Linked DNA regions of Homo sapiens: region 1 is linked to region 2. Evidence: fine-mapped expression QTL. A gene starts in region 2. The other region holds a variant in brackets. All regions are shown on one strand. Distances are between the middles of the regions.

The links. PIP is the estimated chance that this variant, and not a neighbour inherited with it, causes the effect.
Region 1: its variant is fine-mapped to the expression of SP110 in T cells (TOPMed, PIP 0.97).

Annotation. Positions count from the first base shown.
Region 1 is chr2:230,170,953-230,178,952 of GRCh38, reverse strand. It overlaps SP110 (SP110 nuclear body protein), which reads left to right. Exons shown (of 19, transcript NM_080424.4): 13 at 698-796; 14 at 1,273-1,415; 15 at 5,994-6,109; 16 at 6,779-6,887; 17 at 7,186-7,257. Among named protein-coding and RNA genes, the nearest start is that of SP110, 45 kb to the left of the region's middle. The variant A/C (reference allele first, on the strand shown) is at 3,036.
Region 2 is chr2:230,215,542-230,225,272 of GRCh38, reverse strand. It overlaps SP110 (SP110 nuclear body protein), which reads left to right and starts at 5,289. Exons shown (of 19, transcript NM_080424.4): 1 at 5,289-5,399; 2 at 8,345-8,492. The coding sequence starts at 8,346. It also overlaps a transcript of SP140 not described here. RefSeq lists a silencer at 5,177-5,363 and enhancers at 5,081-5,560, 8,501-8,650.

The sequences.
Region 1 (8,000 bases), 45 kb after region 2:
TGAATTCACCCATAGTGAGGTTGGAGGGGAAGGCAGCAGGAATTGCTGAGATTTATTTTAAACCCTCTTGCAACTGCTTCCCCTGAATCTAAACTCTGGATTTCTACCCAGGGGTTCTGAGTTGCCAGACTGCTCCATGAGCAACTGGGAAATTAGTTCAAAGCTCTCCAGGGTTTTCTTTTATTCATCGAGGAAGAAGCAGGGAAGCAATAAAATGAAAAGAAACAGCAAATAATTAAGACTGACACCATCCCCTCAGTGCCAGCCACCTCACTCACCCAAGTCTTCATTTAAGTCAGGAAATAAGATTATAAATGAAGATTTTTTTTTCCTCTGGCAACATGAATGCAAAGAAACATTTCCATCAGCACAGAGAGATCAGCAGGATGCTTATAGAATAGAAGACTATTCAGTGACAGCCAATTCACTTGCAAATTAAGACACATTCACTGAAGATGCCCTATATGTTCCACTAAAATGTTTTTTTTTTTGATATAGTGTTGGTGGCAGTGGTGGTTTGTTGCAGGCCACTGTGTACACATAGCTTATCTGTCACTCGAGATGAAAGAGTTCCTGCAAACTAACCAGAGAACGTTCCCCAATACCCTGTACATTATTGGAATTCATGGAGGGGAGAATTCAAAAGGAAGATGGAGTGAAGACTGAATAACACAAAACTGTTCTCTTCTACTTTAAGGAAAACCCAAAAGTGACACTGTGGATTTTCACTGTTCTAAGCTCCCCGTGACCTGTGGTGAGGCGAAAGGGATTTTATATAAGAAGAAAATGAAACACGGTGAGTTCCTTGGTCTTCTGCTCTTTGGAATCCCTAGATGAAGGACTCACTAGAAGGGAGGAAAATACCCGTGTGTGTAATTGATCAGGAAATGGACCCTGCTAGCTAGACTGCAGAAGAAACGCTTCTTAGGAAGGAATTTCCAAACTCTTCCACATCATGGTATTTCTGGCAATCAGACCCTCCACTCCCACCTGGAAGTCACCCATGGGCCCTGCTGTACTGACAGCCATGTCCTTGCTGCATGTAGGCACTACACGAATGCACATTCTGTCCCACCCCTCACCACTCAGTCAGGCTTTAGGGCTGGCTTCAGTCCAAGAGAAGAGGCCCGCAGACTCCCCTGCTACTCCTTCCACCTCACAGAGGAAGTCTCTCTTGACCTGGAAAGGTAGAAGGCCACAATTAGGATGAAGAGGTTCAGGGTGAATTCACAGAGGATGGGGGTAGATCCAAGAATGGGCTTTTTCTTACAGGATCCTCAGTGAAGTGCATTCGGAATGAGGATGGAACTTGGTTAACACCAAATGAATTTGAAGTCGAAGGAAAAGGAAGGAACGCAAAGAACTGGAAACGGAATATACGTTGTGAAGGAATGACCCTAGGAGAGCTGCTGAAGGTATTATAATGACGGGACAGATAGGTGACAGGTTTAAATCCTTGAAGGAGAAGTGGAGCTTTAAGAGCAGAAATGTGAAGAGCTCCCGTTAGGATTCAACAGCATGATTTATAAGGAGTTAAATGTTCATAGAAAAAAAACTGTGGGTGACAAAGTTAGGAGCACATATTGTTCCTGATGGTGGAGAACTTTAAATGCAAGTAAAGGAGTACAGGAACTTTAAATGCCGGCAAAGGGCTTTGAGGTGAAGAGAGATGTAAGAACCTAAAAAGAAACTAGCTGAAGACAGATGCCTGCAACCACTCCCCTGCATCCTCTACCTGACATCTACTCAAGGCCCAGCTCATCTGGCCCCCCTGCAGCATTTCCAGGCTGCCCAGTCCGTGGTCTGTCTCTCCGCTGCATGTCCACAGCACACTATTCCTGTCCTGAGAACAACTAGTGTCTATGATGACAGGACCCAACACAAGGCCTCTCTCAGCAACACTCAAGAAATTATCACTAGGATGAAATCCTAAAGATTTTAATCTAGAGAGGGAGAAATGGAAGGAGAAAGGAATGGATGGGAAAGGTTAAGAAAGAAGAACTAGGGTCGTGGGTTTGAGTGACAGGGGAAAAAGTGATTTTATCACTAAGTGAGGTCCAGAAGAAAAACTGACTGGGGGAGGGAGCTAATTTTTCTTTTTGACTTCTTGGGTTTGAGATCCAGTGTGATGTCTGGGTACAGACATTCACTAGGAAGTGGGAAGGCCAGTATCTACAAAAGAAAAACCTCCAGAATAACCTCATTCATTGACTCCTTCTGTCTTTCAGAGTGGACTTTTGCTCTGTCCTCCAAGAATAAATCTCAAGAGAGAGTTAAATAGCAAGTGAATTTCTACTACCCTCTCAGTCACCATGTTGCAGACTTTCCCTGTCTGGAGGCTCACCTTAGAGCTTCTGAGTTTCCAAGCTCTGAGTCACCTCCACATTTGGGCATGGCATCTTCAAAACAATTAATTTGCATAGTTAATTTGGGATGGGGAAGCAAATGACTCTAAAATAAAAATTAAATGAAAAAGCTCATCATGTCCATGTGTTTTAGAAAAAGATCTGGATATTTGGATGGCTATAAACCAAAGGTGTCAGAAATAAAATGCTCTAAGCCTAGGCAACATAGCAAGACCCCATCTCTAACAAATTTTTTTTTAATCAACTAGGAATGGTGGTGTGCACCTGTAGTCCCAGCTAAGGCTGAGGTAGGAGGATTGCTTGAGCCCAGGAGTTCAAGACCAGCCTGAGTGATATAGTGAGACTCTGTATTGCTATACAGAGCGATGTAATCCCAGCACTTTGGGAGACCAAGGTGGGTGGATCCCTTGAGCCCAGGAGTTTGAGACCAGCCTGGGCAACAGGACAAAACCCCTTCTTTACAAAACATACAAAAATTAGCCAGGCATGGTGGCATGCACCTGTAGTCCCAGCTACTCAGGAGGCTGAGGTGGGAGGATCACTTGAGCTCTGGAGGCAGAGGTTGCAGTGAGGCGAGATCATGCCACTGCACTCCAGCTGGGGCAACAGAGCAAGACCCTGTCTCAGAAAAAAAAAAAAAAGAATGCTGCAGCATGAAAAGCAAAAGAA[A/C]AGGCATTGAAATAGACAGGAACAGTATATGAAAGGACAAGAGGATCATCCATGATTGCATACTGAGTATTGCTGAATCCTCCATGCTTCTTATTGGTAGCACCAGGATGGAATGACGCCTTTGAACTGAGCTTTGTCTCTACAGGGCATCCCTACAGCTGGAAATGGCAGTCATCTATTGGCTGCACTAACTCCCCCTCCTCAACCTCCTCTACTTGCTTAGATGTGTTCTCCAGACACATCAGCTCCACTCATGAGCTTCCCGTTAGTTGTGAACTTCCAGCAGAGACAATGGTGCCTCCCCCATCTTGCCCTGGAGGCTGGCCTGACCAGGCTGGATTCATTCAAAGTTTAAGGCACTGGTCTCCCAATGCCATCTATTATATAAATCATCTTTCCCATGCTGGTCTGAAATACCCTGAGAATCAGGGGTGCTCAGTGTAACATCATAATAGCAAAAAATTAGGGACGAACACAAGTTCTATCAGTATTGCAGAATAAACTGATACAGCTACAGAATGGTTTTTTTTTAAACTTTTCTTATAGAATATTAGACCTTTGATATAGATATTTGTTTAAATACATGGATTCATAAGTATGGAGTTATCCTTCAATCAATGGAAAGCCACCAAATGGTTTTGTGGTCAGGAGAGCTTCAGGACACTTAATGCTAGTTGTGACGTGTGGGGAAGGAACCCATTGTTGCTTATGTGAACGTGTAGGTAGGTCTATGAGTGAAAAAATAGCCAAAAGAATCAACTGCACTTATTTTGAGATGAGATCACAGGGACATATGCCTTCTGTATTATACCTTTATGTACAATTGGAATTACTATAATGACCATTTGTTACTTTTGCAACCAGAAAAAAAAAAATCTTTAAAATCCAGATCATTAATTAATAGCCCCAACATGGTAATACCCTCTAACTCTCCTAATGCCACATGTCAGCTCATAATAGCCAGGGGCATGCTTGACCCAGCCTCTCAGTCCCACCTTCCAGGGCCAGGTTGGGAGAATAAGATGAAGGTTTACCCGACTGAGAATGAGCCAGTGCGGGCCTTGCCCTCAGCCCCATCATCCAGTGTCACTGCTGCTCGGCAGCACGTCCGTCTGTCTCCACTGCAGTCTCACTTATGTATGTGTACAACAAAGAGACCGATGCTGGTACTCCCAAAATGTGTTTTGTGGTTGCCCTGCAGCGTGCTGCCTCCATGACCCACACATGATGGGCAGCTGGTGTAAAGAGCCACAGACTTGGCCTGTGAGAGCCTCCGTCTCCAGAAGGGCTTGGATGCAGCCAGCAGTTGCCACTCTATCAGCATATAGTGTGAGGCTGAGGAGAACAGCTTTTGGGGTTTTGGTTTTTTTTTGTATCAGAAGCCCATGGCCATCATGGGTGGTCCAGAGATGCCAGGAGGCATGAGAGGAGGTTGCCAAAGCTTCCACAGTGAATGAGACTCAGGAGGGCACTAATGTCTGCTGTATTGCAATTTGACAGATTCTAGAACCTTTTGTTAGAAGGGGCCCCATTCAAAGTGGGCTTATTTTGCAAGTAACAGCGTAAATGGGCTTACCTAAAATCTACAAATGAAGGATGTGTTTCCTTGAACTCAAGAGGCCTGAAGGATGCTGGGAGGTTTATTAGAACACTGTGAGTACTCAGAGGGTCAATAATTATTTTTTGACAGTGTCAGGGATGGAGCATCCCTCAACTGACCAGACAATGGCCAGAAATTGGTGTGGATCCCTGTACTATGCCTGGGGCAGTGGCCCATACTTTTTTGTTTTAGTTTAATCCCACCATGTGGAAACACAAACCCCATCCTTTTCTATGAGTTCTTTGTGAGTAATGTCCTGAGTGTGTCAAATGAATTTGCTGAAAGAAGGGTGTCTTCAGGGTGATGTTACACCTGTACTCCTAGAGAATGTCAGATGCAGTTCAAATCCTGCCTGCAAAGATTGTGTATGGTGGCAGAACTGTCGAGGTACCCCGTGGTAGCCAGATAACGGTCTATTGTGTCCCTTCGGGGGTGAAAGCAACCTGCAGCTGAGATCTGTTGAAATAGGCGCTGAACAGAACACATTAGTCAAATCTATGCCTGCAGAGTATTTACCACTTGCTAAGTGGATGGAGTCAGTAATTTCAATAACATTGGGCCATCACAGGTGGGGTCACAGGATTCAGGTTGTAGTAATTCACCGAGAGGCACCATTCATTCTTTCCAAGCCTAAGAACAGACCAAATTGGGCTGTTAAATGGAGAAACAGTGGGGATAATCACCCTTTCTCTAAATAGATCTTCCATAATGAGTTTCAATCCTTGAAAGCCGTGTTTTAATTCATATTGATCAGTATTAAATATTTTAACAGAGAAGGTCCATAGAGTTCCATTTTGTAAAGCCAATTGTAAGTGCCAAAGGTAACTTAATTTTAATTATTTTAATGTGTTATTTACTGGGTCATAGCATCCATGCCCACTGTGGAACATTTTAGGGCCATGTTATGTTACGACCATGGGGCAGTTAGGCAAGGCACCAGGAACAACAGTTCCCATACTCCTGCACCCAAATGCCAGTTATCATCATTTCTTACTTTGGTCAGTCAGATCTATTAATAGAGGCCTGGTGGGCTCAGCAAATGCGCCCAGAGTGGCCCAGCTCAAAGCACAAGCTTGCCAGCAGGCAGCAGCACAGCTCAAAACGCAGCAGAACCTGTTGGCAAGCCACAGCCAGAGAAGAAAAGTCCTGGTGGCGGCGGTCACCACCCAGACTCTCTGCTTGTTGTGCCATTTGTCTTGCAATTTCCCCCAGGGAGGTGGCATCAGCTCCCCCCATCAAAAATTGGGTTTGGATATCCACTCTGGCACACACAAAAATGATGTGTTCTAGAACCCCACAGGGTCAGCATTCGTGGGTCTCCATGGTCCTAGCGGTGCCCACGTTATCTGCCCTTGCAGCGGAAAAACTCGGATGAATGCGAGGTGTGCTGTCAAGGGGGACAACTTCTCTGCTGCGGTACTTGTCCACGAGTCTTCCATGAGGACTGTCACATCCCCCCTGTGGAAGCCAAGAGGTGAGTGGGATGCAGCCCCGCCTCGGGCACACAGCACTCACCTCCAGATGGAAAGGGCAGGACCTGTGAGCGTCGGGGACGAGGGTGTGACGCAGAGCAGTCTGGTGCCAGAGACTCTGGGCCTCTCTGGGTCTCTGAGACTGCCAGTGAGCCTCTTGGCCCCACACTGCTTCTGCCCCTGGAAGTGCCCTTTCCTAGTATGCTATTCCCTGGACAGCAGGGACTCCTGTCCAAAAGGAGGAGGGGACGGGAAAAGCCAGCTTATGTTCTGTGCCTGTTGAGGAAAGACAGGAAGCACGGCTTGTCACACATTTCACCATAGTCTCACCTGGCTGATGGAGGCCTGAGGTCCCTGCAGGTGAAAGCCCAGATTCTGACACTCAAGCCTGGCAGGCAGGGTTCCTTTGTGCTCCCAGCAGCTCAGACAGGGAAAAGAGAGCCCACACTTAACAGTGACACCACCTTCCTCAGGCTGCCCGCCTGCCGCTACCACTGATGCGAGGGAAGGGCCAATGCTGGAGACCCCATGTGGGGATCTTGGACACTCTGGGAGGTGTCCCACCCTCATGGCTGAGCCCATCCTTCCTGAGGGAAGACAGTGGCAGCCACAGGAATGGTGGCCATTTCCAGGGGCTTTGCCCTCTGCTCACCTTGTGTCCAACCTCTCAGGATGCTGTGGAGTTGCACCTTCTGCAGGATGAAGAGGTCTTCAGGAAGCCAACAGTGCCATCATGTATCTAAGACCCTGGAGAGGCAGATGCAGCCTCAGGACCAGCTGGTGAGTTGGATGCAAACCCCAAACCTATACTTTTCCCTTCTCACACGAGAAGCACAAACAGGCACAGGGTCAGGGCAATGTACCAAAGGGAGCCTTCAATGTCTCCCTTTAAAGGATGACGATTTAATGCCCAAACTCAGAGTCTAAACAAAATCCCACACACCCTGTGCGCCTTGGGAAGCATGGCTGGAATGCTGACTGGGCTTGGCTGCCCCATCCGTGTGCATGTCTAGACACTCGCCTGGCTTCACTGTTTCTAAGCTGCATTTCACTTTCAAGCCCTCTTCACATTTTACAGAAATGTGAGTTCCTCCTCTTGAAGGCCTACTGTCATCCACAAAGCTCCTTTTTTACGGGCATCCCATTTAATGTAAGTCACATTTTACGGTTCTCTTGCATAAAATGCATTTGGAGAAATTTGGGGGCTGATCTGGCAGGTGCTGCAGTTTGCTCAGGAAGCTGGAGAACAGAAGAGAAGGGCAGCGTGGCAGCAGTGGAGCGGGGCAGCAGGGATTTTGCTGCACACTCTGGAGAGGGACTACCTGGTTCAAACTCCACCCCACTGCTCACGGGCTCTGGGATACCGGGCAAGTTGCTTCTCCTCCTGTGTATCTGTTTCATCTTCTCTTTAGGAAGAATGTCTTTCCTACTAGAGATTAAGAGTCACAGATGCCAGCTGGGCTCAGCGGCTCACGCCTGTAATCCCAGCACTTTGGGAGGCCAAGGCGGGCAGATCACTTGAAGTCAGGAGTTTGAGACCAGCTTGGCCAACATGGCAAAACCCCATCTCTACTAAAAATACAAAATTAGCCAGGCATGGTGGCAGGCACCTCTAATCCCAGCTACTCAGGAGGCTGAGGCAGGAGAATCGCTTGAACCCAGGAAGCAGAGGTTGCGGTGAGCCAAGATCGCACCACTGCACTCCAGCCTGGGTGACAAAGCAAGACTCCATCTCAAAAGAAAAAAAAGAGTCATAGATGCCAAACTGTGTGGGTTCCCATCTCAGCTCTACCACTTTCTTGCTGAGACATCTTGGGTAGGTTCCTTGACCTCTCCATCCCTCGGTTTCCTCATCTATGAAATGGGCATTATTATTTATGGTACCCATAAATG
Region 2 (9,731 bases):
TCTCTCAACTCCTCCAGCCAAAGGCAAGTGCTGAGGTTGGGCAGAGAAATGAGGTGCAATTCTAAGTTTTCTCAAATATGTGGGCACTTTACAACAGCAGCCAGGGGTGACTGGGAAAAAAATGAGCTTCAACCATTTCACTGAAATCTTGAGGAGAGTGACAGCCTTCTCACTGGATGGGGAAAGGGTTTGGAGCTGAGATTATCTAGACCTTCAAGGACAATATGATACAGGAGGATAGCTGTATTACATTTATGTTTGCACACAATTTTTCATTTATACCCAGCCCTCATTCTGTAAAGGATTTGAAACAATTTACAAAAACACACTATATCAGCATAAAGTCGAGTGATAAACAAATGGAAGCAAAGGGCAAATATAAAAAATATAACCACAGGACTAGAAATCCAGGCAGAAAAATGGGTCAAAGACAGGGGGCTGATGAGAGCCAGGGTATGGGTAGAATCCAGGGCCAGTGACAGAACAGTAGTGAGGATTGAAAAGCCAGAGGCAAAGCAGTATTTTTCCAAAACATGTGCTCCTGAATCCTACTTTTTCTGGTTCATTACACATATGCAAGGAAATTTGCATACATAAGTTTGCAAAATACAGAGTGCAAGAAATTTCTACCCCTTCCACACTTCTGCTTTCTTTCTACCAAAGGAACAAACACCAATCTGGTTGAGACAAACTCTAGAACACTGATGAGGACACCTTTTCCAGTATCTCTCTCTCTCTCCTCTCTCTCTCTCTCTCTGTCCTCTCTCTCCTCTGTCTCCCTCTCTCTCCCTCTCTCTCCCTCCCTCTCCCTCCCTCTCCCTCTCTCTCCCTCCCTCTCCCTCCCTCTTTAAAACAAGAAGGAAAAGTATGCTGGGCTTCTGTTAGACACAGCTGTCCTCTCCTCCCAGTCTCCATGGGGCTCCAACAAGGCCTGGTACAGACTATACCGCCTGCTCCAGCATCCCCTCTCTCTCTTCTCTCTGCCCTTAGGCAGTAGGCAGACCCAGGACACCAATGAACTGGACATTTTTGAAAATGTGCCAGCTTCTTTTGCTTATAAGCACAAGGCCATTGGTGTTCCTCAGCTGACTGGTGGTAAGATTGGTACTTCAGGGGTACTGCTGCTACTACTAGAAAGCCCTACTTTGCAACACCATGCATTAGCCCAGGTAAGGATAGCCTGAAATTTCAGTTCTATTTCCCACTATCTTGTTTTTCCCTATGCTCACTACAGAACCTCTCCTGGGTAAGGGATTCCTGGGCCAGGCATATGTAGGACCATCAGACCATCTCTGGTTCCCAATGTCTTCCTTTACTGCCACGTGACCAGTGGAGTCAGAAGGCTCCGGCCTGCCTCCTGGCTCTGTTCCCCCATCCAGATTTAGGCCAAGTAGGTCATAATCCCCAAAGGTAAATCAATGCTTTCATTCTACCTGGAAGATTTCTCTTCATTTTGCTAAGCATGCTAGAATCTGACACCTGGAATTGGGGAAATGAATTGTATAGAGTCTTGATCACAATCCAGTGCTGTAATTTAATTTGCCAACTTACCCCTATTTGCCCACAACTCCAAAATTCCTGACTCTGAACGCTAATGGGGATGTTCACTGTTTTTATGTCCAATTATGTCAGATAACCAATCCCAGATTGATCATATTTCCTTGAATATCTCTTGCCTATAATTCAACCTCTGGTGCCCAACATTTTTATCAGTCAGGATTTGGGAGTAAAAGTAATCCAAACTGACTCTGGCTAACTCAGGCAAAAAGTCAATTTCTTAGAACTATATTGGGTAGCTCACAGAATGTATGGGAAAGCCAGAGGACTAGGTTAAGAAAGTAGGCAGTCCAGGCAGGTTATATTGACTCACTTGCCCTTTGTCATAATATAGTTGAAAGATATCTGGATCACCTGGACATCCCATAGAATGTCAGACTGGGCTGGGCATGGTGGCTCATGCCTATAACCCCAGCACTTCGGGAGGCTGAGGCAGGCAGATCACGAGGTCAGGAGATCAAGACCATCCTGGCCAACATGGTGAAACCCCATCTCTACTAAAAATACAAAAATTAGCCAGGTATGGTGATGCGTGCCTGTAGTCCCAGCTACTCAGGAGGCTGAGGAAAGAGAATCACTTGAACCTGGGAGGCGGAGGTTGCAGTGAGCCAAGATTGCGCCACAGCACTCTAGCCTGGAGACAGACCGTGACTCTGTCTCAAAAAAAAAAAAAAAAGTCAGACTGATTGATGACATCATGCTGATCAGACAGGATGAGCAGGATCTTGGTGGCTAGCATACCTGCTAAAGAAGAATAAATTACTGACCCACAACAACAGAGATGAATCTCAAAAGCATGATGATGAGGAAAAGAAAGCCATACACCAAAAATGCATTCCATGTGCCTTCATTGATAAAAAAAAAAAAAAAAAAAACTTTAATACACACGAAACTAATCTGTGGTGATAGAAAGCAGATCAGTGGTTGCCTGGTGCTGGCCTTAAGGAGGGGATTGTTTGCAAAGGTCACAGGGAACTTTCTAGGGTAACAGAAATGGTCTGTATCTTTTTTTTTTTTTTTGAGACAGGGTCTCACTCTGTCACTGCTCACCAGAGACTGGACCTCCTGGGCTCAAGCAATTCTCCCACTTCTGTCTCCCTGATAGCGGGGACCACAGGTGTATGCCAACATGCCCAATTAATTTAAAAAAATGTATTTTTGTAGAGACGAGGTCTTGCTCTGTTGTCCAGGCTGGTCTCAAACACCTGGGCTCAAGCGATCCTCCTGCTTTGACCTCCCAGAATGCTGGGATTATAGGCACAAGCGACTCTCCAGGCCTAGAAATGGTCTACATCTTGACTGGTGTAGTAACTACATTTGGTAAAATGTACATTACAATGAATAAATTTTATACCTCAATAAAATGGAGCTAAAAAGAATTATGTATAATTTATCTCAGTACATAATCACTAGCATGTGAATTAACAGGTGACGTTTTCCCATTATTACCATGTTCTCAAGCATGCATTTTTTTTTTTTTTTTTTTGAGGCGGGATCTCACTCTGTTGCTCAGGCTGAACTGCTGTGGCGCAGTCTCAGCTCACTGCAACCTCCAGCTCCTGAGTTCAAGCGATTCTCATGCCTCAGCCTCCCGAGTAGCTCGGATTACAGGCATGTGCCACCACGCCCAGCTAATTTTTTTGTGTTTTTAGTAGAGACGGGATTTTGCCATGTTGGCAAGGCTGGTCTTGAATTCCTGGCCTCAAGTGATCTGCCTGCCTCAGCCTCCCAAAGTGCTAGCTAAGCTACAGGCCTGAGCCACTGTGCCCAGCCAAGCATATATGGCTTAGAATAAACATCTTTCATCCTCATTCGCAGCTGTCTTTTTTTCATGTAACAATTTTTGCCTGATTTGACATTGACTTTATTTTCCCACTCCTGCTTTACTTTTGTTTGTTTGTTTTGCATTTGCCTGGTGTATCTCTGAATAGATCTAAAGGAAGAAGTTCTTGCTGCCAGGATCCTCAGATGCCCATGAAGGGGCTTTCCAGGTGATGGGGAGGGGCTTCAGGTAAGTGACATGTGACATTTGCATAAAATAACCTTAATTCCTTTACCACCGCCATCCCCTGCATCACAGCGCTGTATGTTACTGCATGCTGAGGCATCAATGCACCCTCTCCTCAGCTGTTAGCATTGAATTTTTCCTGGCTGTGGCTTCCATGCCTCTGTTTCACCCACAGCCATTACCCGCAAGGCCGGGTCTGCTATTCTGTACATACTAGGGTGGGATATGCTGTTTGTGCCTGCATAGAAGGGCTTGCTCTTATGCAGTTAGCCTTGGTTTCAAAGCTTCTTAAACTTTAGATCCATGTCTCCCATCTTTTATCTGAGGAGTTTGTGGATGTCCTGGTAGGGGAACTTGTGGGTCAAATACATTTGAGAATTATTGATTTAATCAAAGTTACATAGAATTCTTTTTTTTTTTTTTTTTCGAGATGGAGTCTTGCTCTGTCACCCAGGCTGGAGTGCAGTGGTGCGATCTCGGCTCACTGCAACCTCCACCTCCTGGGTTCAAGCAATTCTCCTGCCTCAGCCTCCCAAGTAGCTGGGATTACAGGTTCCCGCCACCACATCTGGCTAATTTTTGTATTTTTAGTAGAGATGGGGTTTCACCATGTTGGCCAGGATGGTCTCAAACTCCTGACCTTGTGATCCACCCATCTCAGCCTCCCAAAGTGCTGGGATTACAGGCGTGAGCCACCGAGCCTGGCCCAAAGTTACACAGATTTCTATAGTGCAGTGGTGCAATCATAGCTCACCGCAGCCTTGAACTCCTGGGCTCAAGCAAGTCTCCAGCCTCAGCCTCCTCACTAACTAGGACTACAAGGTGCATGCCACCACACTCAGTTAATTTTTTATTTTTTTATTTTTTGTAGAGATGGGGTCTCACTATGTTGCCCAGACTGGTCTCAAACTCCTAGGCTCAAGCAATCCTCCCATCTTGGCCTCCTAAAGTCCTGGGATTATAGGCATGAGCCACTGTGCCTGGCCAATAGTTTAGGATTTTTCATAGGCCCCACATGTCAATGTACATTAGGGATCTTTAAAAGGGGCATGAGAAGGGGTGTCCCTGCCAGCCCTTGAGTTACTGCTCTCTGGAATCAGCAGGTCCCAGTTCTGCCTCAGACTCCTGGCTCCCAACTACCTGCCCAGCTCTCAGCCATTTTTCTGCCTGGAGGTCTGCCTGCCTCTGCACAATTCCAGTTCATGTGCAGGTTCCCTTTCATTTCAATTTCTTCCTGTAATAATCTTATCCTGACAAGTTCTAGGCATTTCTGGCACATTCTCTTTGTTTTTTTGTGTGTTGTTAGAGTTTGATAACACACTGGATAAATTCCAGTGAATTCATTCAGTTATGTAAACATCACCACAATCCAGTTTGAGAACATTTTCATCAACCTAAAATGTACAGAATGAGGACAAGTCATGGGAAAATAGATGTGGTTAGGGAAGCATTTGGACGCTGAGTTCCCAGTTCCTATTGCCGCTGGGGCTGTACCCTTATGCCTCCTCCTCCCATACCTCCCTCTCTGGGCTGATCCCAACTGGCAACACGCCCTCCCCCAAACCCCAACTGCCAAGACGTCCTGGGAGCCTCACAAGTGCCCATGAGGAGGTGGAGAGAGGCTGCAGGCACCGACCTGCCTTCAGCTTCCGGCTTGGCAAACTCCGAAAACTTTCACTTTTCTTTTCTCGGAAGCCCGGCCCCTTACTGCGTTTGTCAAAGCACAGACTTCCTGTTTTGCCTGCTAGCATCTCCCTGTAACTCTCCCAATCTTGAGGAGTGATCCCTGTCCCAGCCCCTGGAAAGGGGCAGGAACGACAAACTCAAAGTCCAGGTGAGTTTCTGTCTTTGCTGCTTTATTCTTCGCTCTTGGTGACTGCAGCTCTTAGAGTTAACTTCGCGGCAGCAGCTGCAGGGTGGAGTTCAACTATTTAAACTCTGAGGCTCTCTCAGAGCTCAGACATGTGGTACTTATTAGGAGACTGTTAAAAGGGGGCACATGGAGGGAACACTGACACCTCTTTTTTTCGCCAGAGTCCAGCCTGTTATTGTGAATGGAGCCGAGATTTGCCCTCTACCCTCACCTAAGCTCTGATCCTTCAGTGCCCGCAATAGGCGGCTCATCTGTTATCCATTGTGTAAATGACTAGAGGTACTTGGGAAGCTGGTGGAAAAGAAAAAAATGAGAGTACATTTAATTTCGTCTCTAGTGTATCATGAACTTTTTATATATTTTCTCTAAATACATGATTATTTCCTTGAAATAAATTATTAGAAGTGGAAATTCAAAGGAGCACATGTTTTAGGACATTTGACACTGATTACTAAATCAGCCTTCAGAACATTTGGACCTGTTGACCTTCCCACTCACAGTGTCTGAGATTATTACTATTATTTTCTATCTTGGCCAATTTGATAGACAAATATGTTATCAAATTGTCTTCATTTACACTTTTTTTGGTTGTTTGTTGTTGTTGTTTTCTGAGACGGAGTCTCGCTCTGTCACCCAGGCTGGAGTGCAATGGCACCATCTCAGATCACTGCAACCTCCACCTCCCAGGTTCAAGCGATTCTCCTGCCTCAGCCTCCTGAGTAACTGGGACTACAGATGTGCACCACCACGCCCAGCTAATTTTTGTATTTTTAGTAGAGACAGGGTTTCACCATGTTGGCCAGGCTGGTCTCGAACTCCTGACCTCAGCTGATCCGCCCACCTCAACCTCCCAAAGTGCTGGGATTACAGGCATGAGCCACCATGCCTGGCCTTCTTTATGCTTTCTACTAGCTAGTTAACATGCTTATCGTATTATTCATTGCACATTTGGCTTATTCTTTTATCACTCTCTGTTCATGTATTTTGCTTTTTTATTTTCTAGTTGGATGTTTGTCTTTTGCTTATTCGTTTGCAAAATCTCTTTACATAATAAAAATCTGAACAGTCATATATGAGATGTAGTATCTTGCATAGAAAGAAACAGGGCTTTAGAGTCAGACAAGCTCTGCTTTGCCACTGAATACCTTGGGTGAGTTACTAAACCTCTCTGTGCCTCCCTTTCATCTTTGGGACTCATGACAGATGAAGAATGAGGAAGCTCTAGACTTCCTGTTCTGAGCGCTGCTGTATAATGAATTGTTCTAAAAGGAGCCTCCAAGACCCCTTCCTCTTCTTAGTATATGTTTACTCTGCCTTTCTCTGACTTTGCACTGATCTTTGCACTATCTCCTTCCCCTGTGCATATTGTGGATAGTAGATTTCTCTCCTATCTGTTCTCTATCTTCCAAGACTTCTTTACCACCACAGACTCTCAATGGCATCTTTTCTTGTTTTCCTATGCGATTGCGGATTATTCTTTTCATGAGTATTTTTTTCTGCCAAGTTAAAAAAATTGGGGAATGAGGAGAAAGAGACTAGGGTGCTTAATCTGCCACTGGGATTAAATCCCTGTAAACAGTTGTTAATTACGATTTACTTTTCTGTTCAACACAAAATGAAGTTGGAAAAGTGGAATCCATGTTTGTTCTGTTTGTTAAAAACTGTCAAGTTGATTGAATGTTTTGTTAGTGCTTTTCCTTTTCTTGACAATTTGTCAAGAATGTCATTTGTAAACTTTCTTCCCATTATAACCTATTGATATCTCCTCACAGTCCATAAATGGCCAATCTTTAATACATGCTGCATGGGCATGGGAAAAGGCGCATGTCTGAGACATGAAATGGTTGCAGTGAACAAGTCAGTTAAGTCACTTTTACTAAGTATGCCTTTCTCAGCCCTCATGCTTTTATTTATGCTTGGCCCATTTGTGTTGAAGATTGGGAGTGGTTCGTTAAAGTTTCCAAATATTACCAGGTTTCCAGCTGAACTCTACCCATTTTAGGGTGGTCCCTGTTGCATGAGCATTGCTAGTTAATGGCTTCAGCCGTAGCCCAGGTCATCTTGTTTAACCCAGATCAGTGTGGCCATAGAACACATAGTTAGCACTGTAAGCCTGGAATCAGGATTTGCTCCCAGCTCTTCCACTCTCTAGTTGTGCAACCCTGGGGCAAGTTATTAAACATTTCTGTGTCTCAGTTCCTCAACAGTATAAACAGGTGCAGTCATAGGAACCACCTCGCAAGGGTTTTATGAAAATCAGATAAGTTACTGCATATGAAACCCTTAGAACAAAGTCTGGCACACAGGAAACACTCCATAAATATTAGCTACTTTTAATACCTTCCTTATGTTTACCTGCAGCGCCTTGGGATTCTGTCATTATATTTTCAGTCACTCTCAGCCTCCATTGTTGCTGGGAATTGTCCTTGTTTCCTATACCCATGAGCCTTTTAGGCAGACATTGCTTTGCAGGCTACTAAGGATGCCTTTGGGACCAGAATGCTTACCTTTAGATCTGCCCATTTAATGCAGAGAGAAGCTTCCCACATTCCTCAAGGTTTTGCTTCTATTTTTTTTTTTTTTTTTTTTGAGATGGAGTCTCACTCTGTCACCCAGGCTGGAGTGCAGTGGCACAATCTTGGCTTACTGCAACCTCCACCTCCCCGGTTCAAGCAATTTTCCCGCCTCAGCCTCCCAAGTAGCTGGGACTACAGGCGTGCGCCACCACACCCAGCTAATTTTTGTATTTTTAGTAGAGACAGAGTTTCACCATGTTGGCCAGGATGGTCTCAATCTCTTGACCTCAGGTGATCCACCCACCTCGGCCTCCCAAAGTGCCGGGATTACAGGCATGAGCCACCGCGCCCAGCCTTTGCTTCTATTTTTTATCATGCCTCTTTCCATAGGATGTTCACCATGACAAGAGCCATGGAAGAGGCTCTTTTTCAGCACTTCATGCACCAGAAGCTGGGGATCGCCTATGCCATACACAAGCCATTTCCCTTCTTTGAAGGCCTCCTAGACAACTCCATCATCACTAAGAGAATGTACATGGTGAGTCATGTTGAACCCTTCCATGGCAGCCCAGCCCCCACCAATATGCCTGATTATTAAAGTCTCAAACCACAAACCACCAGGGCTTCCAGAGTTTGGAAGGCCCAGCCCAGGCATGTTCATTATCACAGAAGGTGGGGGTAGTTAGGAGAGAGGGTGTCATAGGGGCTATGTTGGTTTCTAGGGTGTCATAAGGACTGCTGTAACAATGACTACAAACCAGGTAGCTTAAAACAACAGAAATATATTCTCTCAGGTGTGGAGGCCAGAAGTCCAAAATCAAGGTGTTGACAGGGTTGGTTCCTTCTAGAGGCCCTGAGGAGAATCCGATAGCTGCCTATCTCCTAGCTTCTGGTAGCTGTTGGAAATCCTTAGTGTTCCTTGCCTTGTAGATGCATCACTCTGATATGTTTTCATCTCTACATCACCTCTCTTTTGAGTCTTCTACCTAATCTTCTGAGGACACTTGGATTTAGGGTCACCCTAATCAAAGATGATTTTATCTCAAGATCCTTAACTTAATTACAACTGCAAAGACACTTTTTCCAAATAAGTTCACATTCACAGATTCTAGATGGATATATCTTGGCTGAGATATATCCATCCAACATTCAACTCACTACAGGCATCATCCCAATTTATAACAGCTAATATTGCTCACAGTGCATTCTGATGTGAGACAGGCAGGCACTGGGAGATATGCTATGTGGACAAAAGTGGACCTATTTTTATATAATTTTGGTTTTTAAAAGCATTAATTGAGCCCTAGACTCAAGGAAGTGCCAATAATCTTCCCTTAGTCTTAGTCTGGTTGGCCCCAACTCCCTCTTCAGATCACAGCCCAGAGAGCACTCCTCAGAGACATCTCCTTGGCCAACTCATCTCATGAAGACCCCTTAGTTATTCAGTTCCATAGCAATCTATGCTTTCCCTCCGTAACACTACTCTCAATTGTAAATGGGTATTTATTTGTGTTTATTAATGCTCATCTTCTCCACTTGACAGTGCCTACCCTGACCCCCAAATATAGGCAACTCCATGTTGGTCTTATTCAGTGCTGTGTACCCAAAGACTCGCTGACCGAGCCTAGTAGATGTTCAATAATTATTTGCAATCAGTTCTCTCTTGCCGTATTTCTCCTTTTGTCCATCCTCTAGGCAAGGAAAATTCTCAGGGTGACTTCTCTGTGGCTGGAATCCATTCAGGCTTATCTCAAGTTTGAGAGACACAGAGAGAGAC